Linked DNA regions of Homo sapiens: all the other regions are linked to region 5. The links come from fine-mapping of genetic effects on gene expression. A gene starts in region 5. Each other region holds a variant in brackets. All regions are shown on one strand. Distances are from middle to middle.

Region 1 (5,104 bases), 150 kb after region 5:
CTCAAACTCCTGAGCTCAAGTGATCCGTGCACCTCGGCCTCCCTAAGTGCTGGGATTACAGGCTTGATTCCAGCCAAAGTGCCTGGCTGACTCTTTGAATTAGAAGTTAAGGTGAGTTTTAGAACTCTGGTCTTTTCTGTGATTTGAAATGTTGCCTCTGGGGAAGGTGCTGTTTTCTAGTTTTATGAAATGATAGACTCTCTTCCCAACACACACACACACACACACTCACACATTCACACTCACACTCCCACCTCTTGAGAAGACCACAGGAGCTGTGGAGACAGTTGTCCTTGGTGTGGCCAGCCTGGTTGTGGGACATGGGCCTTAAGGTGCAGCACCCCCATTCACCTTCTCCAGGATGGAAACAATTTTCTTCTTCCTCATTGGCCTTGCTCAAGAAATATGCCAGGCATTTTCAATGTCTTCTGTCCAGACCCAGAAGGATACTCAGACTACTTCTGTTTAAATGGGGCTTGTTTTTCATAAGCAGTTGCATTGTTGATGTGGCTAAATTTAGACAGAACCCCATCTAGATTGTGGTCAAGGGCTATGAATGCTGCCTCCACTGAGCACCAGGTGGGCTTGTACATTTTGGTGACTCATTGCTGCTTGTGATGAGAGGGGCCTGCACACTTAAACCCCTCCAAGGCAGCACTGCCCTGTTCAGTCTTACCTATGACTCAACGTCAGGAAGCTGAGGACCCCGGTAGCCTCTAGAACTGAGGTGTACCCCTGGGCTGCAGTGGAAGAGGATCTTGGGGCCCTAGTGATCCCCTAGATCTAAAAAGCAAAGAGACAGCTTAGAGGAATAGAGGATTTGGTCAGGGTATGTGTGTGTTGGAGGGGTCAGGGCAGTTATTTTCTTGCACTGAATTCTGAGCATAAAAACTTCTAGCTTGCTTTGCTTTTTGTCACCCAGCGATTTCTAAAGACAGTACACTTGTGTGTTCAAATCCCTTTTCACACCTGGAGAAATTCACTCTTGACTCCCTTCCAGTGTAAGAAGTAGTTTAGCATAGTTCCGGAAACGCTTCGATATCAAGCCATCAAAAGACAGACTGCGAAGTCACTCCGAGTGTAAGAGCTCTCTGTATGTAGAGGACCAGCTTTCTGAGAATGTTTTGGCAGGGACTTGAAAATGTCAGTCATGTGTAGACAGGGAAGTGTCATACCATTAAGATGTATACGGGATGGTGACAGAGTGAGAGAGGCCTTGGGGTTTTGAAAGAAGGGAGTGATTTTTGTAGTCCCAATTCATTGTCCTCTGAGTAGCTCTTCCCTCAGCCTCTTGCATGCGACTTTGGCTGGTCGGGGATGCCAGGCGAGTTCTGAGCCGGAGACTCATGGGGAGTCCTCTTGTGCAGCTGACACCTTCTGGAGACACCTTCCTCACTCCCAAAGGCACGGGGCCTTAGTGCTTTCTGAGTAGCCACCTTGGACCATCGGTTCAGTAATTTGAATAGTAAAATGTGGGATGGCGTTTTCTTGCTAAAGTGCAGCTTAACTGGGGGAGTGAGTTGTTAAAAGAGCAGGGTGGTAGCATAGATGACAGGCGTTCATAAAGCACTGAATTTAGAGATCTGGACCTGGACTGTGCTGCTGAATGTGGAAACCTAGACTCAGTGTGACCATCTCTAAGCTCCTTTGAGCTTCTAGGAGTCTGTCATCAAAGGTGGTTTCCAACAGCCTCCAGGGCCCCCTGGCCCTTTGTGCTCCATCCCCACCTCCGCTCATTCCAGTTTCACCTGGGGCTATGTGGCTACCTCCTCACGTCTAGGCTCTCCTCCTTCTGAGATGCTCTTTCTCTTTCTTGTTTACTGGAGGGCTTGGCTAAGACCAAACTTGGGTACCCTGGGCAGAACTAGGGACTCCTGTGCCTCCTTTCCAGAGCATCGTGTGTGGACCCTTTTTGTCGTGTAGTTATTTGGTTATTTTTCTGCTTCTGTCGGGCAGTGGGTATCGACAGGTAAGACTGCCTTATTTGCCTTGGTATCTAGGAGCACTCAAAAGTGAATAGATTGAATGGAATTAAATCCTTGAAATTACAGTAGAAAGCTTAGGTTCTTTAGAATAGAATCGTGGTGAAAGATGGCCTTTGTGTTCTGTGTATTCTGTGCCCTTTTTCCGCTAACAAGTTGATATCGTGCTGTTATTTTGTTTTGTTGATAACATAGTGTGGACTTTGTACTTCTAAACCTTAGGAAAACGTGGATCATTAGTCATTTTTGTCACATTGCAGTCTGCCCTAATAAACATAGTATTGGAAAAACGAGATCTGTTAAAGGGAATGATGAATTTTGCTGCCTTGGAGCTTGTTGATACCTGAAAATTGGTTTCGGAAATCGAGACGCCTGATGGAAGTTTGTGTGTCGTTTTGGCTGCGTTAGGCT[C/T]TTCTTGAGCCCTATTAGGCTCGATGCCATTAAACTGCTATGCGTAATGAGGGTGACACGTTGCAGTGAACTCCCATCCTCCAAAGGCTTTTAAACTTTAGAAACCTGTGTATATGCTGTGCCTACCCTTTATAGTATATATTAAAATAAAGTCACACAAAAATCCAAGTTTAGTGATTAAAATAACATTAGAAGTGCATAATTCACGTTATAAGGAAAGTCTCTCCTTTCAGAAGAATTCACTGTGGCTTTCCCTGACTCTTGACATATGATTTGATTTACACCAAACCAAAAAAAATTCAGCAACATCACACATCCCTTTAAGCAATCAATGAAAATGCTCATTCAGTTTTACCCCTCAAAATGTGCTTTAGATAAGTGAGTCTAATGGTATCAAATAATGCCTCTGTGGACAGGCATAAGTGAGATTCTGGCAAAAAAAAAAAAATCTAAAAGTTTTTTAAACTTATTGAATCTGTCAGTCTTGCTCAACTTTTTTTTGTAGTATTCATAGTATTTTGAAGAGAGTAGGTCCAGCTTTGAAAAACTCTAAACTTAAAAAAAAAAAAAAAAAAAGGTGGCCAGGTGAGGTGGCTCATGCCTGTAATCCTAGCACTTTGGAATGCTGAGGTGGGAGGATTGCTTGAGCCCACAATTTCCAGATCAGCCTGGGCAACATAGTGAGTCCCTGTCTGTACAAAAAATGAATTAAAAAAATAGCTGGGTGTGGTGGCATGTGCCTGTAGGCCTAGCTACTTGGGAGGCTGAGCTGGGAGGATTGCTTGAGCCCAGGAGATGGAAGTGGTAGTGAGCAGCGATAGCACCACTGCACTCCAGCCTGGGCAACAGCAAGACCCTATTTCAAAAAAACAAAACAAAACAAAACAAAAGCAAAAAAAGCATGAGCTTTAAAGTGAATGGATAGGTAGAGAGATTGAGGAATTTTTTGGTAACTCCTTAGCTATATTGCCTTTAAAAAAAAAAGTGTGTATATTACTTTCAGCAAAATTATTTCAGCAAATAAGTATAACACTGCTCTTGTTTATATTCTTTCAATTGAACCTCGCTGCCCAACCAGTAGTACATCCTCAGCCTTTTTTCCTCTCCCCAGATAGCTCATCTTCACGATCCCTAGCACAGCACTAAATGCAAACAAAATGTCCTTACATGTGAGTCAAGTACAGTTTAGTCTGGAGAAAAGGCCCCTGTGTCTGAAGCTGTTCCTTCTATGAGCCAAACATCAAGTGTTCAAGTCAGAGGGACTACACAGACCAGGACAGGGGGCTGGCTTCCAGGGCTGAGGTTGTTGCTGTAATTGTTTTTGGGTGTGCACCTGCAGCGCCTGTGTAAAGGTGGAGACAGTGGTGGGAGGAGTGAAATCTCCCACCGTGGTTGGATGCTGGACGAACGGCCTCAGGTGTAGGCAGCTTTTTTGTTGTTGTTTTTTTGTTTGTTTTGTTTTGTTCTGCCATGCGCTTCAGTTTGGAAGCAGCCTATATTGTACACGTTGATTACTTTGAAGAAGTGATTTCTTATTTTGCTTCATGTTCATTTTCAAGGAGGTATACCTTGGGGAGTGGGAGTGTTTTTTGTTTTTGTTTTTTTTTTAAGCATTGTTTATAGCCACAATAGAATGTCATTGGAAAGAGTGGAGGCTTTGGAATTACATTTTTATCCCATACTAACTGGGTGACCTTTGACAAGATCGTTAACTCATACTGAGTGGAGTTCCTGTTTCATGCTGGGAATCATGCTGGGACCTCAAAGACCTCCTGTTCTGGAGAGAGAGATGCTCATCGGGGGCCAGCAGAGCCAAGTTCACAGGACAGAGCAGGGATGCCCCAGCCAGTCTGCAAGAATTGGAACAGCTTGGTGGAAGAGAGACACAGTCCCTCTTAGTCACAGTCTCCTTGTCTGGAAGTAGGGGCAATGGTACCGCAGAGGGGTGGTACTGAGTGCTAAGTAAAACGAGTTAGAAATGCCTTTCACAGAGTCTGATGAATGAACGTGGGTCCCCATCTTTGGTACCTGAAGACGGCCATGTCCCACAGGTGTGTGGTCAGAGGGTGCACAGTTCACAGAAGGCCTCCACAGTGAGGTGGGATGCAGGTGGAAAGAGAAGTCCCAGGAAAAGGGAGGCAGGGGAGGAAACAGAAAGCTGCGGTTGGAAGAAGACCTCAGCACAGGTGCACTTTTTCTCTTGTGGATTAGTTATTACCGGATGACTTTCATCCACACACTTAACACTCTCTTTGCAGGGACAGTTTTGGGGAAGGGTAGGCGTCTGCTTTCACAGAAGGTAATTACCGCAAAAGCTGGTACCAGCTCATGCTGTTCTGATGTTTTGGTTACGCAATCATGGGCCCCTGTACTAGTACATTTGTCTTCATAAGCTGTGCTGAATTATTTTTTAAAACCGCTAACTGATGCGATTAGTAAAACATTTTGGTTTTTAACTTTTGATGAAAATAGCACTGTTTGGAACTGTGATGCAGGGGTTTACTGCTGAGTGAAGTTCTAGAATTTTGCTGAAAGTAACATGACCTGCTCTGTGGGTCTCACTCTGTCTCTCTGTTAAGATTGTTGAGTGAATGGAAGAAAAGGAAGACTTGGTGTGTTTCCAGTGATCTATAAAGAAATGATGAAGTGAATATGTTCTGTGGATCTCTGTTCTCTCTTTGACTCTATTAACCAAGTAATATCTTAATTTA
Region 2 (5,104 bases), 86 kb after region 5:
GTCAAGCAATTCTCCTGCCTCAGCCTCCCAAGTAGCTGGGATTACAGGCACTCACCACCACACCCAGCTAATTTTTTGTGTTTTTTAGTAGAGATGGGGTTTTGCCATGTTGGCCAGACTGGTCTTGAACTCCTGACCTCAGGCGATCCGCCCACCTCGGCCTCCCAAAGTGCTGGGATTACAGGTGAGAGCCACCGCGCCCAGCCAGGCACAGTTATTTTTAAGTTTCTTTTCCCATGCTATAGGTTCATTTTGCAGATGTAACCGCTTTTGAAGTCTCGTTGTGTCGTTTAAGAACTGCTTTTGAGGTATCTCTGCCCTACATTATATCATCCTACAGTTCTGAGACTTGCTTTTTTCATTAACAGTATAGATCTTGGACCTCTTTCACCATCAGCACAGAGACATAACTTATTTTGCAATTGTTCAGTAGTGCTTCGTTGTGTGGATGTGCCAAAATTTATTTAAGCAGAGCCCAGTTGATGGGCATTTAAGTAAAAAACATGCCGTGTTTTGCCTTTTTAAAACAAAGCTGCAGTGAATATCCTTTGACTGCCTGGATTTGAATCTTGGCTCCAGCAGTTGCCAGTTCGTCGACTCTGAGCAAGTTGCTTTATCTCTCATGTCTGCAGGTTTCCCCTCTGTAAAATGGGAATATTAATAATATATGATGGGTATGTAGAATAAAATAGCCAGTGCATATGATACCCAGAATAATGCCTGGGACACAGTGAGTGATCAGTGATCATTAGCTCTGTATGGCTGCCTGTGCCTTTGCACACTTGAGAGTAAGTCAGTCAAATAAATTCCTAAATGCTGAATTGCTGGGCTGCTGGTTCAAAAAATGTACAATTCAAATTTTGGTGGATACTCCCTGTTGCCCTACACACATTATACCAAGTTATTCTTCCACTAGTAATTAAACTTTTAACCTCTAAAAGCCTTTTTTTTTTCTTTTAATGTAAGGCTTGAAAGCAAGAACATTCCTTCATTACTTCCTCCTACTTATCTTTACTCTTGGCCTTACTACGTCATGACACATCTTATGAAATACTGGTGTGATAATAAGCACTTTGTGCAGCCCTACCATGGAAGAATTGGTGAAAATGTAAAGGTTCTCAGTGGTCTTCAGACTTGTGTTTGAGTTTCTCTCTTGCAACAAGGTGCCTGACTAAGAGAGTAAAGGTTACTTCCTGCATGTTTAATGGGGCTTGATATTTGCATATGGGCAGGTACATCCTGCTTAATGAACAGTGTTGGGAGCCATGTGGATGATTGACATCAACTTGTAGTACAACAGGAAAACATTCCTAGATTAATGTTCCTTTTCACTGGGTAGGGCTAGAGGGCAACTGCAACGAGTGAAATGCTAGGCTGCAGGTAGATGGCTTGTCTTGAGCTATGAATAATATGTTTGGCAGCAGCATGGGCAGAAAAGTTGAGATTTCTGGATACAGGACCTGGTGAAGCAGGTTCTGTCACAGGGTCAGATCACCTCTAACACCTGGCCATCCCCAGTGCAAAGGAAAACTAGGAGAGAGAGAAGTGAGTATAAGAGGCAGCTGAGGGACTCTTGACAAAGTTGAGAAGGATCTGGTGTCCTGGGAGAGCTCCTGTCTTCTGGAATTAGTGATGCATCTTTTGTGGAGGCTCCTGATGGCTCAGTAAAAGGAGCCTTTCATCTTGCCCTTCCTACAGGGCTGAGAGGGGAGGGGTTCTTGGGACAAGTGGCTTTTAGCAGAGAACAATAGAAGCCGTAGGCTGGGCTGTCACTTGCTTTGCTACTTCTTAGTTTGTAATCATCCTCTGTGTGTCCCTGAAAGTCCCCTGGTTCTCTCTAAACTGTGGGGCTCCAACTGAATTCCTGTCTGCTCCCCAGGGGTGCCCCGCAGCAGTTAGAGCAGCTTGTTGAGAAGGAGCCGCAGGGGTAGGGCAGAGGTGGACCGGAAGCCGGAGGAGGCCACTTGACATGGCGATTGGAGCCCTCCCAGCCTGTGCTTTAGACCTGCCAGATTCCTACCCACCTCACCTTGGAGTGGGACATTTCTTTTCACAGTGCCCAGGCTTAACTATGCTGTCCCCGGGTCCATTCCCAACTGTTCCTATTCAAGATGTCTAGACCTTTGTTCCCTGCCTTGGCATTTTCCTTTCCTGGTGTGGAGTATCTCTTTTTGAAATAGCTATCTCAGCTTCAACATAGCAGAGCGGAAAACCTATGTCTGGGCTTGAGGCAGGGGGAGGAAACC[G/A]TAGATAGATCCAGGAATGGCCAAAGTAAGCAGAGATCCGTGAGCCTGGACGTGTCATGACATAACAAGGATATGTGGGTGGGAGGGGCAGGGATGACATCTTTAGCTTTCTGTGAAATCATAGACATGCTTTCATTATTTTGTAGAATCAAATAATTTTGAAGATAGAGATATCTGAGTCCATCGATACTTACCTCTTTTTTTTTTTCTTTGGGACGGAGTTTTGCTCTTCTTGCCCAGACTGGAGTGTAATGGCGCCATCTCAGCTCACTGCAACCTCCGCCTCCCAGGTTCAAGCGATTCTCTTGCTTCAGCTTCCCAAGTAGCTGGGATTACAGGTGTGCACCACCACATCTGGCTGATTTTGTGTTTTTAGTAGAGACGGGATTTCACCATGTTGATTAGGCTGGTCTCGAACTCTTGACCTCAAGTGATCCACCCGCCTTAGCCTCCCAAAGTGCTTAGGATTACAGGCATGAGCCACTGTGCCCAGCCGATACTTAGCTCTTATTGGCCATAGTTCTCTTGGAGAATTTGGGGAAAAGTATGGGCCTCTCCACACCATAAGTATACATGATGTACTTACCAAACACGTGCATGCAAGTTTAGGGGTTCACAGGCCCTGGAGGTTTGTCTGCACATCTGCACTGTGGGGCAGCTGCACCTTCCTATACACAAAGACCCAGGGTCGTGGAGAGACGGCACTTGTGTGGGTCACAGAGTTGGAGACAGTGTACCAGAAGTCATTGGTCCGCAGAGCCGTGTCTTGCATTTTATACTCCAGTACGTTGCTTCGGTGGGAAGGGTGACCTCATTTTTTGTTTAATTCGAAGACCTCACTGGGAAAGAAACACATAGAGATGTGGAAGGAAAAAGAAAAAGCTGTGGGAAATCGTGAATTCGTGGACATTGATGGTGAAAGGTTCATTTCAACCCTTGATGGGAACATCGTGATTCTGTTTAAGAAACAGCATCATGTATATGCCTTTCTAATAAAACGGCGCGGCACCTTCCCACGCAACTTGCAGCCACGAGGTTAACCAGAGATAAACGTGGCTTTCCTTTTCCTTACATCTTCCTGCAACACCCTTCACAATAGCCCACACCAAGAGAGTTCTTAGGGTAAATATCTGTGGCGTTAAATTTCACTTTAATACAGAAAGGCTGGCCTTGAAGGGGAGGGAAGAGAGGAGCACGACTCACTTGGGCCTCCCAGAGGCAGGCTTGAGGACCTCTCCTGCAGCGTAGTGGATGGGGAGGAACAGCACGCGGGGTTCAGGCTGACCGCAGCTAGACTCCTGGGGGGTCTCTAGCTCTGTGACCAGAGTGGCTCTGCCTCAGTAGCCTCCCCTGCATAAGGACACCTTTGCAGGGATATCGTAAGGAATGGAGAGACTGTATTGAAAAATATGCCGGAAGTATCTGGTTTCTATGGGGCCCTCAGATGATGGCCAGCATCGTCTTCAACAACATCTTTCATTGTCATCATCATTGCTGCCATCGTTGTCCTGGGCCAGGATGGTTGGCAGTGAGGGGGTCTGGCATGCCCATCGTGCTCTGTGGTGCTCTGGTGCTGTTTGAAACATGCGACTGGTTCTTTTAGAGATTGGCTGAGGAGCATCACCTTTTGTGAACCATGCTGATCAAGTTCATCTATTGTTTGATGTTGGTTGAGAAAATCATTGATCCTAACATTTCATTCTTACACATAGCCTTAATGTTCTTTTTAAGAAAGAGATAGAAGGGCTTTGCCCATGCAAAATGCACACGAATAATGGCTTACCCACTTGCAAATAATCCATGTGAAAATAAGTTGCTTGGAATAACATAAAATCATGAAGAGGCCGGGCGCAGTGGCTCACGCCTGTAATCCCAGCACTTTGGGAGGCCAAGGCGGGTGGATCACCTGAGGTTGGGAGTTCCAGACCAGCCTGGCCAACATGGTGAAACCCCGTCTCTACTAAAAATACAAAATTAGCCAGGTGTGATGGCGCATGCCTGTAATCCCAGCTACTCGGAGGCTGAGGCAGGAGAATCGCTTGAACCCAGTAGGTGGAGGGTGCAGTGACCTGAGATTACATCCTTGTACTCTAGCCTGAGCAATAAGAGTGAAACTCAGTCTCAAAAAAGAAAAAAAAAATCATGAAGAGTGGACCTTTTTGCAATTTATATATATGTTTTCCTATATTCTGCGATGCTTATAATCATGATGTAAACTAATCCTTCTTTGGCTGCAATAGTCAAAATATAGTTATAGGAAATAATATTGAGAAGAAAAATATATTCCTGAGCTAACAAAAAGCCATATAGGAAAGAAATGAAGTGTGTACAGTGGGCTCTCGCTCAGCTTTTTGTTTTTTAAGAAACACTCCATTTTAAAGAGAAAGGCCCAGCCATTTCCACAGATGTGTTTCTCTCTCTGAGCTGTCAGTAGCATCTGCGGTTATTTTCTGGAAAATGGAGAGGAGATGCCATGAACTTGGATTTCAGAGTTCCCCTCTGATTATCAAATTGACCCTCTTGGTGATGAATCCCACCATTGGTTCCCAAAAGGTCATACCTTAGTCACTTTTTAATTATGTGACCCCCCTGGGGTGCACAAAAGGAGCTTCATGGGGACTTCATGGGCCTCTCCACTGTCTGCAACTTGAAGCCTGATTTGCAAAGCCATCGGAAGAGAATTCCCTATGGGGTGAGCAGCCATAGTTGGCAAACAGCTCCACCACCACAGCCTTGGAGAGGGAGGGCGGTGCAGACTGACCCATCCAACCAAGCCAGGAGTCAACGCTGGGGCCATCAGCATGCGAAGCAAAGGAACCAAGTAGCAGAGGAAACTCAGCAACCCCAAAGAGCTGCTG
Region 3 (5,104 bases), 250 kb after region 5:
AAGGGCATGAGCACCAGGAGGCAGGGACGCACTGAGAGCCATGTCAGATGCCGCCTCCCGCCATGTATGATGAAATACACTATAGACACAACTGTTTTAAGAGCCTACCAGTTTTATGAACCCAAGTATGTCTTTTTAGTAGAACATCTAAATCTAGACAGCTAGAAGAACTACATTTTATAAAAATCTGAATATTTTCTTTTTTTTTTTTGAGACAGAGTCTCACTCTGTTGCTGGTGCCAGAGTGCAGTGGTGTGATCTTGGCTCACTGCAACCTCTGCCCCCTGGGTTCAAGCGATTCTTCTGCCTCAGCCTCCCAGGTAGCTGGGACTACAGGCTTGTACCAGCATGCCTGGCTAATTTTTGCATTTTTAGTAGAGGTGGGGTTTTGCCGTGTTGCCCAGGCTGGTCTCAAACTCCTGAGCTCAAGCGATCCACCCGCCTCAGCCTCCCAAAGTTCTGGGATTATAGCGTGAGCCACCCTGCACCTGGCCTGATGAATGATTTTTAAATTGTGACTCCCCTATGCTCAAATGAGATTGGATCAAATGTCTTCTCTAGCAAATAAATAATTCCATAGCTAGAAAGATCTTTGGTAGGTAGTTTCCTTCCTCTTGTGTGTTCCCTGAGCTCTCCTACTGACGTTTTGGAATATTTTCACAGATTCTTGAATACTCCTCCCTGCCAGAGGTAAAGAGCTTAACTCTTATCCTCTTAAGTGTGGACTAGATTTCGCGACTTGCTTCTAATGGATAGAATATGGTAGCAGTGACAGTGTGTGACTTCTGAGAATAGCTGTAAAAGGCATCGTAGCTTCCTCATTGCTGTTTTTCTTGGATCACTTGCTCTGGGGAAGCCCAGCAGCCATGCCGTGAGGACACTCAAGCAGCCTTTGAAGGAGCTGCTGGTGAGGAACTGAGTCTTCCTGCTGACATTGACATGAGCGAAGCATCTTGGAAGTGGATCCTTTCATTTTTCAGGTACCGTGCCAGGGCCTGTGAGGGAACCAAGACGTGTAAGACATGGCCTCTCATTAGTGTTTAAGCAGTAGAGAAAGCTGGTGCCATCTCATTGTTCAGGAGATGAAGTGTGTGGCCGGGGTGATCCAGAGAGTCTCCTTGAAAGTACAGTGTTGAACCTTGGACTTTGGGGTAGAATTCAGACAGGGTGATGGACAGCTAAAGTGGTTCAGAGGCTGGGGTACAGCATGAGGTTATTAAAATGATGGGGCTGAGAAGTACAAGACCTGTAAGTGAAGAACTGGGCACCAGACATTGGCATGAAGAGAAAGAAGACACCTGTGTTCAGAAGTGAGCCTGCCAGGGCAGAGTTAAGACTTTTTGCTGGCCAGGTATGGTGGCTCACGCCTGTCATCCCAACACTTTGGGAGGCCAAGGTGGGAGAATTGCTCTAGACCAGCTTGGGCAACATCGTGTGACCCCGTCTCTATGAAAAAAAAAAAAAACGAGAGAAAAAAAGTTATTTCTCAAAAAATAGCCTTGGACTTGTTCAAATTTGGATCAGGTGTGAACTTGTCCCAGTGGAGCCATGGAGCCCAGGCTGTGTGTCAGAAAGCCTGCAATAGGCTTCCTTGACCCAGAAGATTTTTAGAGCCTCCATTACCAATCACGCTATGACACGTTTCTTGTTCCCATTGGGGCCTGTGTTTCAAACTTTGGGCTGGAAGAGAACATTCCCGTGACTACTCACATCATTTCTATTACCTACAGCTCTTCTCCCCTGTATTGCTAGTCTGCCTCTACCTTTTGAGATCCTACTCACTCTCCGAAGGTAAGGTGGGTGACCTGTTAATTTTAAAGGACTTTTTTTTGGTGGGGGGCACTAGCAAATAAATTAAATCTATGGATGTGAAGGGAGTTTGGTTATGACATCCACTGCCCCATTAACAGCCTTGTCCTTCCTCTTGGCTTCCCAAGCTGTGTGTTCTGTTGAAGAGGAGGCCTCTCCTTGCCCCAGGAATGGATCAGCCAGTTGGGATTATCTGTTGCCTCTAAACACTTGTAGTACTGTGTTGATGCCATCCCATTGTACTTGTGATTCCACGTTGTCACCTTAAGTAGATTGTAAATTCTTTTTTTTTTTTTTTTAAAGACAGGGTCTCACTCTGTCGCCCAGGCTGGAGAGCAGTGGCACGATCTCAGCTCACTGCAACCTCTGCCTCAGGTTCTGGCAATTCTCCTGCCTCAACCTCCCGAGTAGCTGAGACTACAGGCGCACGCTGCCATGCCCGGCCAAGTTTTTGTATTTTAGTAGAGATGGGGTTTCACCCTGTTGCCCAGGCTCGTCTCGAACTCCTGAGCTCAGGCAATCCACCTGCCTCGGCCTCCCAAAGTGGTGGGATTACAGGCGTGAGCCACCACGCCCAGCCAGTAGATTGTAAATTCTTTGAAGGCAGGTATCGTATCTTTCTGTGCAGTCAGCACAGCATTTTAAATGCAATGCTTGCTTATGAAGGGCTGTTTTTCTTTCTGGATTGTTGCGTGTGGCAGATGGAGTGCCACGCAACCAGACTTCTTGGCTACAACACACATGTGGCTTCTTTTATGGAAGTTGCCACCTGCAGATCCTTCACCACCAAGAACATGCTTTTCTGTCATATTGCAGAATCTTTGTGGAGGATCCTCGTTCTTCCTTAACTTCCTTTGTGCCACACGCTTCCCCACTTCACTTGGGCACCTTTGAACAGAGAAGCAGGATTGCTGCCTCCCCACCAGTGTAATAAATGCTCTTTACAAATGTCCCTCCTTGGAAGTATATCTTGTAGAAATCCTAGTTTCTAACTTCATCCAAGAAATTTCTAGACAACTTGTAGCCTAGATTATCCTTTAAGAGCCACTTACACTACTGGAAAACAACTCCACCCAGGTTCTTATTTGAGTTACAGGGACAAGAAGCCTTTGGATTGCAGGTTTAAAAAAAA[A/AT]TTTTTTTTTTATTGCTGAGACTTCTATTATGAACTACCACAGTTGACAAACTGTTAGTTTCCATAGCAATTTTAGACTGTCCTTAGGTGAAGGGTTTCCCTTCCAGTTGCTATTTAAGATGTGTGGAATCCAAGAAGTCACAAAAGGTATTTCATGTGTCATACCTTGGCAATGCGTGCTACTAATTATTTTTTTGTTCCTGTCGTTAAATATAGAGCCTTCTCATTTATTTTGTCAAATGCATTTTCCTCTACTACTTTTTTTTTTCTTTTTAAAGAAAGATGCTCTGTGAAAAGGAAGCCATTCATCCATCCAGGTGAGCTCTGGATGGGCGAGCCAGCCATGGGGACTCCTCCCTGGGACTGGAGCTCTTTTTGACTGAGCTGCACCTTTGAGCATCGAGTTTCTGTTTACCACCTGGATGCTTTCCATTTTGAACACATTTGGGCCTTTCACTGAAAGGCACTTTAAAAATTCAAGGTTTTAGCATCATCACCAAAAACATCTACTAAAATATGCATTTGTACCTGGAGTCATTTAAAACAAATGAGTTAACCTCCTGTGCTCTGAGAATAATCTTTTCTTTCTTCTTCTTTTTTTTTTTTTTTTTTGGTCAAGACAATAGTCTTCATGGGCATTAGGTGACAACAGCTATGCAATTTCATTTTAGTCCATAATACATTATTTAAAGAGGTTATTGAAAATGTTGATTCCTGGAGCTAAAGAAATGGAAATATTTAACCAAAAGAAGAGAACATTTGAAGACCTCAAAGCTTTCATGAGATGTTTGAAAGGCAGTTGAATGTGGAGAGGGTATGCTATCTGCTATGGTCTGGCTCTGTTTCCCCACCCAAATCTCACCTTGATTTGTATCAAGAGCAAGAACAGTTGGAGACAACTAAATCATGGGGGGCAGTGTTTTTCCCATGCTGTTCTCATGATAGTGAGTTCTCAGAGATCTGACAGTTTTATAAGGGGCTTCCCCCTTTGCTCAGCTCTCATTCTTCTCTCTCCTGCCGCCTTGTGAAGGACATGTTTGCATCCCCTTCCACCATGATTTTAAGTTTCCTGAGGCCTCCCCAGGCCTGTGGATCTGTGAGTCAATTAAATCTCTTTCCCTTATAAATTACCCCATCTCGGGTATGTCCTTATAACAGCATGAGAATGGACTAATACACTACTACCTGATACTCCCCGGGGAAGAACCCCACAGCATCAGGATAGGGGATAAGGAAAGCAATTTGGGTCAATGGAGGAGCAAATTTGCCAGCAGTTTGGAGCTGTTGATAGTTGGATTAGATGGTTTCATGAAGTTTTGAGCCTCTAGATTCAGAGACCAAGTGACCACCTTCCCCTTGCGCTGAGAGGGAATTTCTTCAACTGGTTGGAAATGGAATGATAGGTAGGATCCAGAAGGGCTATCTAACTTGATAATTTATGTGATTGTTTTCTCATTTAAGGGAGAGAATATTATCTACAGTGTTTCTGATTTTTTTAAGGGCCTTGGGGAAGGACATAATGAATTATTCAGAGACTTCTCTCTGTGAAGCAAGTTGCACAGAGACAGACAACTTGATACAAATTACGATTCTAAATTTGTTAGTAATATATTTTATTCATGCACTCTACTTACAATAGATTTCCTGCTTGACATTTCTTAGACATATCACTCATGATCCCACAGTTGCTCTTTGAATGGGTGCGAAACCTGTGCAAAAAAAAAAAAAGATGTACACAGTCTAATGAATTATGCAAGTCTTAAAATGTCTCAAGAAAAAGATTACTCATTAGGATTTTCGAATGAATAAATTCAACATAATTGTTGGTGCAACTGCTCTCTCATGTAATAGGTACCAAAATCTGATTCATGTTTTATATTGGAGGGACGGGTACTTTTCTGAAGAATTTTAATAAAGGCAAATAAATGCCTTTTCTAGGATGCTTTATAGTAGAGCCCACAAAGGTTTTCTTCAGCAATACTATCAGTGCTGCTTTTCTCTCCATACTTCCAAAACCTAGAATTTTTTGCCAGTACTTTTTCCCTGTTTTCTTCTGAGTGGTAAAATCCATCTGGGCAGATTTTCTACAGGCCTGTGAGGGGGTGTTAGCCAGAGAGCAGTGTTTTGAGCTCATATACAGAATAGGTGCCTCTGGATAGAAGT
Region 4 (5,104 bases), 520 kb after region 5:
TTCTAACAGCCAATAAAAGTGGGAACCATGGTCACTTATGTGATTGTCATTACTGGAAAAGAGGAAGCATATGTGTTCCTTTGGGAAATAAAGCTTTTCCTAGCACTGAATCCAAAAGGAATTTCTTGAGTATAATTTTATTACCTAGAAAAGACACCAAGCAATATCAGAAATGATGTCCTCAACAACATTTTGAAGTTTTGTTGAAACAATAAATGCACTATCAAATTTCATAAAGCCTTTTTTTAGTGTTCTTCGTCAAGTTTGGGGCATATTAAAATACAACTTCATGAAGGTGACCGACCAAGAAACTCAACCCAAGTCTCCAGGTAAATAACCAATTATCTAGTCCAACTTGGTCCAAAAAAAGAATTTAGAATTCCTGGAGGAAAAGAACAATGAAATACCATGTTTTTATCTGTTAACTTGGCAGAAAATATGCTTTCTTGAAAGATTAAATCCCAATTTTGGCAAGAATTGGGAAAGTCTGCCCTCTCATGCCCTGTGGGTGGGAATATAAATTGGTACAATCTTTTTTAGAGGGCAATTTGGCACTAAGTAACAAGAGTCTTAAAAATGTGCTTACACACAGCAATTCTGCTTTGGGGGATCTTTTTCCTCTAAAGAAATAACCAAAAATGCACCAAAGACTTAGGTACGAGATGTTTGTTTTGCTCCGCCTCTTTGGGTGGCAGTAAACACAGATGGACCCAACCAGGGGCTGGCGCTGGAAATCTCTGGAGCCAAGGCAGTTCTGGGCTGGAAATCTCTAGAGCCAAGGCAGCTCTGGGAGATGGATTTTTTTTCTCTCACTCATGTAAGCTCCTCAGCCTCTTTCTCTTTTTGGAACTTTTTATTTTGGAATAATTTAAGACTCAAAATAATTTGCCAAAATAGTTCCCCTGTACCCTTCGCCCAGCTTCTTCAATGATAACACCTTACTTAACATTAGTACATTATTAAAACCAGAAAAGGGACACAGTAGAATTTTTTTTTTTTTGAGACGGAGTCTCGCCCTGTCACCCACCAGGCTGGAGTGCAGCAGTGCGATCTCGGCTCACTGTAACCTCTGCCTCCTGGGTTCAAGCAATTCTCCTGCCTCAGCCTCCGGAGTAGCTGGGATTACAGGAGAGCACCATCATGCCTGACTAACTTTTTTGTATTTCTTTTTTTTTTTTTAAATAGAGATGGGGTTAGAATACTCTTAACTAAACTATAGGCCTTATTTGAATTTCACCAGGTTTTACATACACAATACACTCATTATGTGTGTGTGTGTGTGTGTGTGTGTGTGACTATGAAATCATATGTATAGATTCATGTAACCACCACCATAATCAAGATCCAGAACTCTTCTATCCAGAAAGAAATTCACCGATGCTACCCCTTTGTCATCTTGCCCCACCCCCCACCGTAGCCCCTGGCAACCACAGCTCTGTTCCCCATCACTGTAATTTTGTCATTTCAGGAGTGTGATATAAATGGAAGCACACAGGATATAACCTTTAACCTCCTGGTGCATTTCTTCCTCCCCAGCCTGCATTTTCTCAAAAGGTCAACCGACCACAACTTCTTCTGGCCCCTCCTTAGCCTCTGATCATGCTTTTCACATCAGCGTCCATTGATGAGTGGGTCTCACCTGGTACTTTTGCCCTGAGAGAGGGAATCCTATGGCCCGGTGCATGTGTGGGTCCGGCCATGTCATCGGTCACTGACAAGTTGGCTGGATTTACTGTCAGGGGTCAGGCTCCCATGTCTGGTCCATTCATCTGTGGCGGAGCGGAGCAAGCTGTTTGACACAAAACAGGGCCACCTTGCCCATCCCGTCATCAAAGAGATGAACAAAGGGAGATCCCTTCTGAGAAGGGCTCTGCTAGGCGGATGCTTTAACTGCTATATCTACTTCACAGGTCATTGGAAAGAGCCTAAATTCTTGCTAATAGAACTCCAGTTTGGGGCTGATTTATGATAACCATGCCCTCCCTGGATCCTCCAGGGCCCCAGGGCATGGATGCTCTTGGGCATAAGCCCGTCATGGGAATTCCATTTTCCTTACCAGTGGCTGGTTTAGGCAGAGCCTGTGAGACACAACGAGACCCAAGTGAGAACTCCGAGGAGCCATTCTTGGCCTCCAAAAGTCCTGTGGGAATGAACTGGAGATCAGCTCGACATCAAAGAGCTCCCAAGGGTTTCTCAAATAGGAGATAGCATCATTCTGTGTGGTTTCTCCAGAGGGCCTTACTCAGGGAATATTGGACAGAAAACCGCTGCTGTGGCATGAGCAGTTTATAGCAAAACAAAACAGAACAAAAACCAGTAACTATGGAGAGAAGACAAACGGCCAGAGAGGAGATGCCGGGAAATTTTATTAGACTAAAAAAATGCAGTGTAATCATTTTGTGAGTTGACTCCAAAGGCCCCACGTGGTTTCTATGCCTGGGAAGGTTCTAATGCCTTCCCCAGGTACCTGGTACTCGAAGCCTGGTGTCCCCAGGCTTTGCTGCAGTTCCAAAGGAACAGAACACTGTCCCCTCGTCCAGCAGCGTTAGCCCACCCAGGGAGTGGACATCGTCCTCACCTATCAGTGGGGTGACTATATAACTAACTGTTATATATATAACTATATTCCAAACCAGGACAGGTGTGAAAGTACAAGAGAGAGCCATTAACTCTCCCGGGGTCATGGTCATGAGCCAGGACCACCCAAAGCAGCTGTAGGGTCACCCAGCAAGCTGCCTCACTGCTTCTGGTAAGAGCCCTGCCACC[T/TGC]GCCCAACCTCCCCTCACCTTTTGGGAGATGCCCATCCCCTTCTCTAAGCTTGTGACTCTGATATCATATCTATTTCAGGGCCTCTCAACCTCGACATTGCTGACATTTGAGGCTGCATTATTCTTTATTGTGAGGGGCTGTCCCATGCCTTGTAGAATACTTAACAGCATCCCTGGCCTCTACCCACTAGATGCCAGTGATAATTCTTCCCACAGTGCCTCTGGACATTGGGCAAATGTCCCCTGGGGAGCAAATAGCTCTAATCCCATCCTTCTGGCCCAGGTGTGCCTCTGGGTTAAAGCTTCCCTGGACAGTTAATGGCTTTCTAATCTTGGGGCCTAGAGAGACTGAGTCACAAGGCAGGGCAGGAGGCCACCTATGAGAATGGGCAAAATGGGGCTGTGGAGAACCCCTCAAGAAGGGGGAGAAATATGTTCTTTTTTTCCCCAAGGTTGTTTCTAGAATCCCTGCTATGACATGCAGGGGCTGGTGTCTCCATAGGAGACCATCCAAGCCTCCCAACCAAATGACCTCCATGCCCCTGGAGAACCAAGCGGGGGTACAGTCCAGAAACATGTTGCACCTGCAGTGGGAAGATTGTAGCTGGGTCACCCCCACCCCACTGGGACATGCCAGGCACATTGAATGAATGAATTCCAGTTTAGTCTTAAACTCACTGATGGACTCTGTGTGAGTGCATTTAATTTCTCTGATTTTTAATTTGCTCACTGGAACAACAAAGAAAAGATTGCTGATCTGCCTTACATGGGTGCAGGGTGAAATGACCTCCTCCAGCCCATTCTCTCAGAGGCCATTTAGGAGATCCAGAAGCATCTATTGGCGGATGGCCACTGCTGGTTACTGCGGGGTCTTTGTAAGGAAAGTGAGGCCTGGAGGGAGAGGGCCACTCCATGAGTACAATAGGGACTAACCTGCTGTTTCACCAGGAGCATGGTAAGAGTAGCAAGTCTCAGTCCTCATGTGACACCAGACCATAATGTCCTTGGAAGAAAATTAGGACTTGGTGGAGTGAGACACTTTGCTCTTAAGTAACTAAAAAAGGGGTGAGGGTCTGTGTCTTTCACTAGCAGGGAAATTCGTCAGGATTCAGAGCCAGGGGAGATGTTTTCCCATATCAATAGGGCCATACCCCCATGCCCGCTTGCTTTGAAGCCAGCAGATAGATGTGTAGGCAGAAAAAAGTCTCAGTTAACATCTAGCCCAGTGGTTTTCACCCACTGGTAACTCTGGCAATTACCAACCTTGGCAACATCTGGAGATATTTTTGGTTGTCACAGTTGGGAAAGGGGTACTACTGGTATCTAGAGGGACAGGGGCCAGAGAGGCTGCTAACCATCCTGCAGTGAACAGGGCAGCACCACGACCCCCATCCTGTCCCGCCCCCATCAATGATACATCAATAGTTTTAAGGTTGAGCTGGGTGTGGCTCATGCCTGTAATCCCAGCACTTTGAGAGACTGAGGCAGGCAGATTGCTTGAGGCCAGGAGCTTGAGACCAGCCTGGGCAACATGGTGAAACCCCATCTCTACTAAAAATACAAAAAAATTAGCTGGGTGTGGTGATGCATGCCTGTAGTCCCAGCTACTCAAGAGGCTGAGGTGGGAAAATCACCTGAGCCCAGGGGGTCAAGGCTGCAGTGAGCCAAGATTGTGTTGCTGCACTCTAGCCTGAGTGTCAGAGTGAGACCTTGTCAAAAAAAAAAAAAAAAATGTCTTGAGGTTGAGAAACCATGATAAGACTGGGACACTAGGGTTTGTCCTCCATCCCCGGGAATCCCATGGGGAAAGCTGGGGGTCTCCACCCTCCCCCCACCCATGGGAATAGAGGCAGGGGTTAGAGGTCGTATCTCCCGCTCCTCTGAGGTTGTCTTGAGCCATCAGTGGAAGAATTGCTTGACCCCATTGCAGAGTCCAGCACTCATGAGGTCTAGGGAAGACACCGAATGGTCCTGACCCAGGCCAGGAACTTTTGACTATGGCCACAGGGGCTGGCACTGGGCAATGCCTACAGACTCACAGAAGACACCTGACCAGGTGAGATCTAAGCTAGTATCCCCCATCCTCCCTTTCTGGGTAGGGTGGCACCTCCCTTCTTCCCCCCGGGGGGGCCACAGAGGGGCCCCAGCATGCCCAGGTGACTCATTACCAGGTTCATCAACAGCACCCAGAAAACGTTCTTCCTTTACTATTCCCTCCCTGCATCTCCTGTGATTACACACTACCAACACCTGCTCCCAGGACGGAGCCTGGCACTTTAGCAGACAACTGTGAATGATCTAGAAACACGACCCTCCCCGCAGGGATTTAGAATTGGAT
Region 5 (5,104 bases):
GTATCTGAAAGACCGCTGGCTTCAAACCATTGGGATTCTGAGTCATCTGTTTGGTGGTCTGACTTTGATCCCAGCCTCCAGCCTCTGGGTCCCCCTGGTCTAGGTGACACCTCTCCAAACAGTGTTGAGCTTACTCCTCAAAGGCAGAGGACAGAAGCGGATTCTGAAAAACTCTGCGTTCAGTCTGACATTCCCTGTTCTTTTCCCGCACCTTCCCCATGAAATAGCAGACTCGAAAATAAAATTTACTCATGCCCTCATGACTGACTGACTACCCCCAACCCAGGGGGTTCTCCCGTCCTTAATCTCCTCCATTTTAGTTATACCATGGGGACTTCAGGTAGGCTGCAGGAGTAGATGCTGGCCCACATTTCCATCAGTCCTTGCTAGGGACAGTGTTACACTGCTTGGTAATTGATAAATCCCCACTCTGGGTGCACAGTCCCCTCTCCCCAACTGAGCTAAGATGTGGGCTATTGATGCTTTCATGCCCAGCCCAACCATGAATCAGTTGACTTCCAGTCAATCATTCCTCCTCGTACCCACCAGGAACAACACTAACAACTGAGGCAAGAATGCAAAGCCACAACCTAAAAGAAAACAGACACATTGTTCCATCTGATCTACTGACAGCTAAGACAGTCACTCCATGGAGTACACAGGAGATTCGCAGGCTGCTGCCAGGGCTCATTCTGTTCTTGTCTTTCCTATGACTTTACTCAGGATTCCATTATCAGCAACTTCACCCTCCAGCTCTCTCCATCCTCCTATGAAAGCCTCAGGGACATAGAAATAAGCTTGTCTTTGTAAAATGTGCCAGGATCTCCGTCTTAGATAAAAGACGACTATGAGAAAAGAAATTATTTCATTCCACTATGTTCCATTTGATTTCTGCTTTCAAGCAATAAACCACCATGGCTTGAGATGCTTCTAGTGTTTCATGGAGAATTGGGACTATTTCCCCAACATGCCCTGCTCTTCATTCCTCTTTGCTTCTTCCCTTTTTGACTCCTTGGACCCGAGGGGCGACCATGAGTGGCGAAATTTCTGACCAGCTAGAATACCAGGCAGGTGCAGGCTCTTGAAGCACCAAGACTGGCTCAAGAGATTGTAAATGGATCAGTCAAGTGCATGCACCACTGACGGCCAGTCAGGAGAGCTTCCATTTGTTAAAAATATAAAGGACATTCCTATCATCAAGCATCACAATTAGGCAATCTCAAAGAAAACAATATTAGCTCTACTTGGCCTATGTTACATGCTCTAAGAAAGTATTTTAGAAAAGTTTTTTTTTTCAACATAAATTTATTGAAGGATCAAACGTGTTCTCTTTCTTGGTCTCTTTAGCTCGTAAAGTCGTTTTGGGGATTTCGTGAATCTGGCAAATAAAACAAAACACCAATGAAACGCTGAGAAATGATTATTTCCCTTATGTATTTTAGCGGCCTCCAGGCAGACCTGATAAATATTCAGCGAGTGATTAGCTGGTGCATCCCCACCTGCGTCCTTTGCATAGCCATGCCCGCTACTCTTTCACAGGCAGTTTTACTTGGTAAGTTACAAACGTACTGGCTGCACTCTGCACCTGACAGTATTGCAGTAATTAGCTTGGGATGCAAAATGATTTCTAAATTAAGGTCCTGGACTTGTAAAATCAAGAAAGCCTGATAATCAACATCGTCGCTCTGGTGGCCATTGAATAACGGGATAAATACCTAAGACAAGTCCTTTAACCATCCCACGTGGTGATAAATGCCCGACGTACAAATTAAAAGTCTCTACCACACGCAGGTGAAATAAGGTATAGGTCAAGAAGAGAAGGTAGGGGAAAGGGTCAATGCTTAATTATTTAAAAATCGCTCTCTTCCTCCTGTAGGAAGGTCTAGGGGCTAGGTCTTTTAGTGCACACGTGATGAAAGTGACATTTTGGCCAGGTGAAACCTCAAGCTGGTACAGGCAGCTAAAACACGGGCGTCGTGCCCTGGAGACACCGGGGGTCCTGAGGATGGGGAAGGGGCTCCCTGCTGCGGGTGCTGAGGGGTTAGGAGGTGAGCACCGGGCGGGAGGCTCCGGGGCAGGGGCTGCGCGTGGAGCCCACTCCCGGACGCGGGCTCCTCTCGGCCCGGCACGGGTGGCGCAGGACTCCGAGCCCGTCGACAAGAGAGAGAGCGGGAGTGGGAGAAGGAAGACCGGGAGAGGAGGAGGCCGGGCGGCAAGAGCGGAAGAAGAGGAGGAGAACTGAGGCGGAGGAGGGCGAGAGGGAGGAGAGCCGGGCGCAGGAAGGGGAGGAAAGAAAAAGGCGGCGGAGGAGCGCGGACCCGCCACTCCCGGCCTCCTCCCCCGCATCCCCACTCGGGCCGGCCCTCCCCCGGCCGCCGCCGCCGCCGCCGCCGCCGCCGCCGCCGCCGCCGCCGCCTCCCCTTGCCCAGTGTTCCCAGCACCGCAAGGCACTCGCTGCCTCCTCCGCACTCGGTCCGGTCCGCTCAGCGCCGCCGCCGCCGCACCCTCGCCGCACCCCCGCGCGCGCCCGGCCCGCGCGCCCCCGCCGCTCGTCCTCGCGGCCTCGCGCTCGGGGCATGCGCGGTGGGCGGTGCCGCTCCGGGCCGCCTCTGCCGCCGCGAGTAGGAAGCGCGAGCGCCGGGCACCGGGCTGTCAGTGAGCCTGGGGCCAGCGGGCGAGCCAGCGGCTCCGGCTCCCGCTCCCGCTCCGCGCAGCACCAGCCCGACTCTCCCCGGCCCCCGCCGCGCCCCCTCGCCGCGACCTCGGCCACCGGCCCGCGCCCCGCGCCCGGGGTCGCCCCGAGCCCGCACCTCTCCCCCGCCGCCCCCGCCCACCCGGCCCTCCGCGGCCGCAGCTCCCCGGCGGAGGCAAGAGGTGGTTGGGGGGGACCATGGCTGACGTTTTCCCGGGCAACGACTCCACGGCGTCTCAGGACGTGGCCAACCGCTTCGCCCGCAAAGGGGCGCTGAGGCAGAAGAACGTGCACGAGGTGAAGGACCACAAATTCATCGCGCGCTTCTTCAAGCAGCCCACCTTCTGCAGCCACTGCACCGACTTCATCTGGTAGGTGCCGGGCCGGGCACTCCTGCCCCGCTCCTCCCCGCCTCCGGGTCCCGGCACCCGGCGCTCCGGCGCGTCCGCCCCGGGGCTGGCTCACTCCGATAACTTGGAACCGGCGGGAGTCCGAACTCTTCGCCCGGAGTGACACGCGCGCCCGGCCCTGACACCGGCGGGCAGGACTCCCGGGACGTCGCCGTCCCGCCACACACACCCCCTGGCGCGAGAGGGAGGCTGGCCCCGTACGGTGGCGAAGGGGATCCCTCTCCGGGCCGGGCCCCTCACCTCCCCGGGCGCGCCCACCCGCACGCACCCAGCGGAGCGGCCGCTTGCCGGGGTGTGAGCCCAGGGGACAGGGGAGGAGGAGAGGCCCTAAGGGGGCAAAGGTTCCCGGAGAAACGCGCCCCGGAGTAACGGGGGAGCGGCGGCGATTGCACTGCGCGCGGTCCAAGTTGCTGGCGAGCCAGGCTGGGCGCGTTCGGGGTGGGGGGGTTGTGTTTGTGCTTCCCATCGGGCTGGACTGCGCTGGCATCTTGGGCCCCTGCCTACTGTAGGCTGCATCTACTGGGCACGGAGAGACTGACTTTTCTGAGTGAGCAGAGAGAGAGAGAGCAAACTGTTGAAAGCTTGCAGTGGGGGAGGGGGAGTTCTAGCAGGCAAATGGCACAAGGGCAGAGGGACTCATTTAAAATAGACCCTGTCGGCCAGGCGCGGTGGCTCACGCCTGTAATCCCAGCACTTTGGGAGGCCGAGGCAGGCGGATCACCTAAGGTCAGTAGTTCGAGACCAGCCTGGCAAACATGGTGAAACCCCGTCTACTAAAAATACAAAATTAGCCGGGCGTGGTGGCACACGCCTGTAATCCCAGCTACTCGGGAGGCTGAGACGGGAGACTCGCTTGAACCCGGGAGGCGGAGGCTGCAGTGAGCCGAGATCGGGCCACTGCACTCCAGCCTGGGTGAGACAGAGCGAGATTCCGTCTCAAAAAAAATGAAACAGACCCTGTCAACTCGAGATTAGACCTGTAACCCTGTTGATGAGGGCAGAGGCCTTATTTAAGAAAAATAATATAAGGGCCAGAGGTCAGAGATCAGGTAATCGCCAATGAATTCAGGCATTCTTAACTCGGAGGGTCCCTGGGGGCTTATGGAGAATCGATACATAGAAGGGCTTCAGGGGTCTCTGAACCCTGTAAAACTGAGGGAAATTGTGTTTGTGAATCTTTTTCCTGGTGAGAGAATTACAGCTTTCATCTGATCCTCAAAAGGTGTGTGACCCTTCTTCCCAGATCCCCGTCACCACACAAAAGTTTTGAAAGCTGGAACTAAAGGAGCTCTAGGTCCTCTAGTTAGAGCAGCAGTAGTTTGGTTTTTCTTTTAAGTTGCCCGACGTCCTGACTCTTCTACCTCTTCTTTGTGGTGTAGGAAGTTCCGGGCAAGACAGAGCTATGGCTAGGGCTTCTTAGCTCCCTCTCCTTCTAGGCCAGGGGGAGCTGCACAGGGTGGCAGTCACGGAGTGAATCCTGCCACCAGCCAGCTGTGTGGCACAGGTATCTTGGGCCACTAGGGTGAGCATAGTATGGATGGCTCTGTCGGAATCCATCACACCTGGGGAAAAACATCCCAAAGGGCAGGTCCCATGATCGTGGTGCGAATAAGGTGTTTAATTTTTCCTTTCCTTTTTAGACATCTGCTCCCAAGTACACTTTTATGAAAAGCACAGCCACCTCTATGAGTGATTTCCACTGTCTAGTCGGCATATGAAGCGACTGTGCTCAAAGGAGTAGGTAGTCGTAGATAAGGCTATTTAAAATAAAAATTTCGGAGCATCAGGGCAAAGAGAATATTGCATTTGGTTAAGAGGAGGTCAGCTGTGAGAGTCCATTAAAAGGGAACAGACTGCTGGTGACTTTTGCAGGAAGTAGGAGAGTTAGAAAGGGACTTGCAGCATACTGAGGCTAGCTATTGTCTTTCCACTATCAGTTGCCCTTGAAGGATCAGCCCCTGGTGAGCTGAAGAGGCGCTCAGGTCACCACCAGTATTGTGAA

Direction of the effects. Positions count from the first base shown, and alleles are read on the strand shown. Sizes are in standard deviations (SD) of each study's normalised expression. Not every link is listed here.
In carriers of allele T in region 4, the expression in prefrontal cortex of the gene that starts at base 2,652 in region 5 tends to be higher than with TGC alone (small effect, 0.22 SD a copy in GTEx).

Evidence for each region. PIP is the estimated chance that this variant, and not a neighbour inherited with it, causes the effect. A credible set is the group of variants that fine-mapping cannot tell apart.
Region 1: its variant is the best candidate, but not a certain one, in a credible set for the expression of PRKCA in gastroesophageal junction (GTEx, PIP 0.60).
Region 2: its variant is the best candidate, but not a certain one, in a credible set for the expression of PRKCA in whole blood (TOPMed, PIP 0.85).
Region 3: its variant is the best candidate, but not a certain one, in a credible set for the expression of PRKCA in whole blood (INTERVAL, PIP 0.61).
Region 4: its variant is the best candidate, but not a certain one, in a credible set for the expression of PRKCA in prefrontal cortex (GTEx, PIP 0.62).

What each region holds. Positions count from the first base shown.
Region 1 is chr17:66,446,031-66,451,134 of GRCh38, forward strand. The region is part of intron 2 of PRKCA (protein kinase C alpha); the gene reads left to right. Among named protein-coding and RNA genes, the nearest start is that of PRKCA-AS1, 32 kb to the left of the region's middle. The variant C/T (reference allele first, on the strand shown) is at 2,394.
Region 2 is chr17:66,385,854-66,390,957 of GRCh38, forward strand. The region is part of intron 2 of PRKCA (protein kinase C alpha); the gene reads left to right. Among named protein-coding and RNA genes, the nearest start is that of PRKCA-AS1, 28 kb to the right of the region's middle. The variant G/A (reference allele first, on the strand shown) is at 2,247.
Region 3 is chr17:66,552,789-66,557,892 of GRCh38, forward strand. All of the region lies in intron 3 of PRKCA (protein kinase C alpha), which reads left to right. Among named protein-coding and RNA genes, the nearest start is that of PRKCA-AS1, 140 kb to the left of the region's middle. The variant A/AT (reference allele first, on the strand shown) is at 2,942.
Region 4 is chr17:66,819,819-66,824,922 of GRCh38, forward strand. No RefSeq gene overlaps it. Among named protein-coding and RNA genes, the nearest start is that of CACNG5, 13 kb to the right of the region's middle. The variant T/TGC (reference allele first, on the strand shown) is at 2,767.
Region 5 is chr17:66,299,962-66,305,065 of GRCh38, forward strand. PRKCA (protein kinase C alpha) reads left to right here and starts at 2,652. Exons shown (of 17, transcript NM_002737.3): 1 at 2,652-3,063. The coding sequence starts at 2,891. RefSeq lists an enhancer at 3,446-3,947.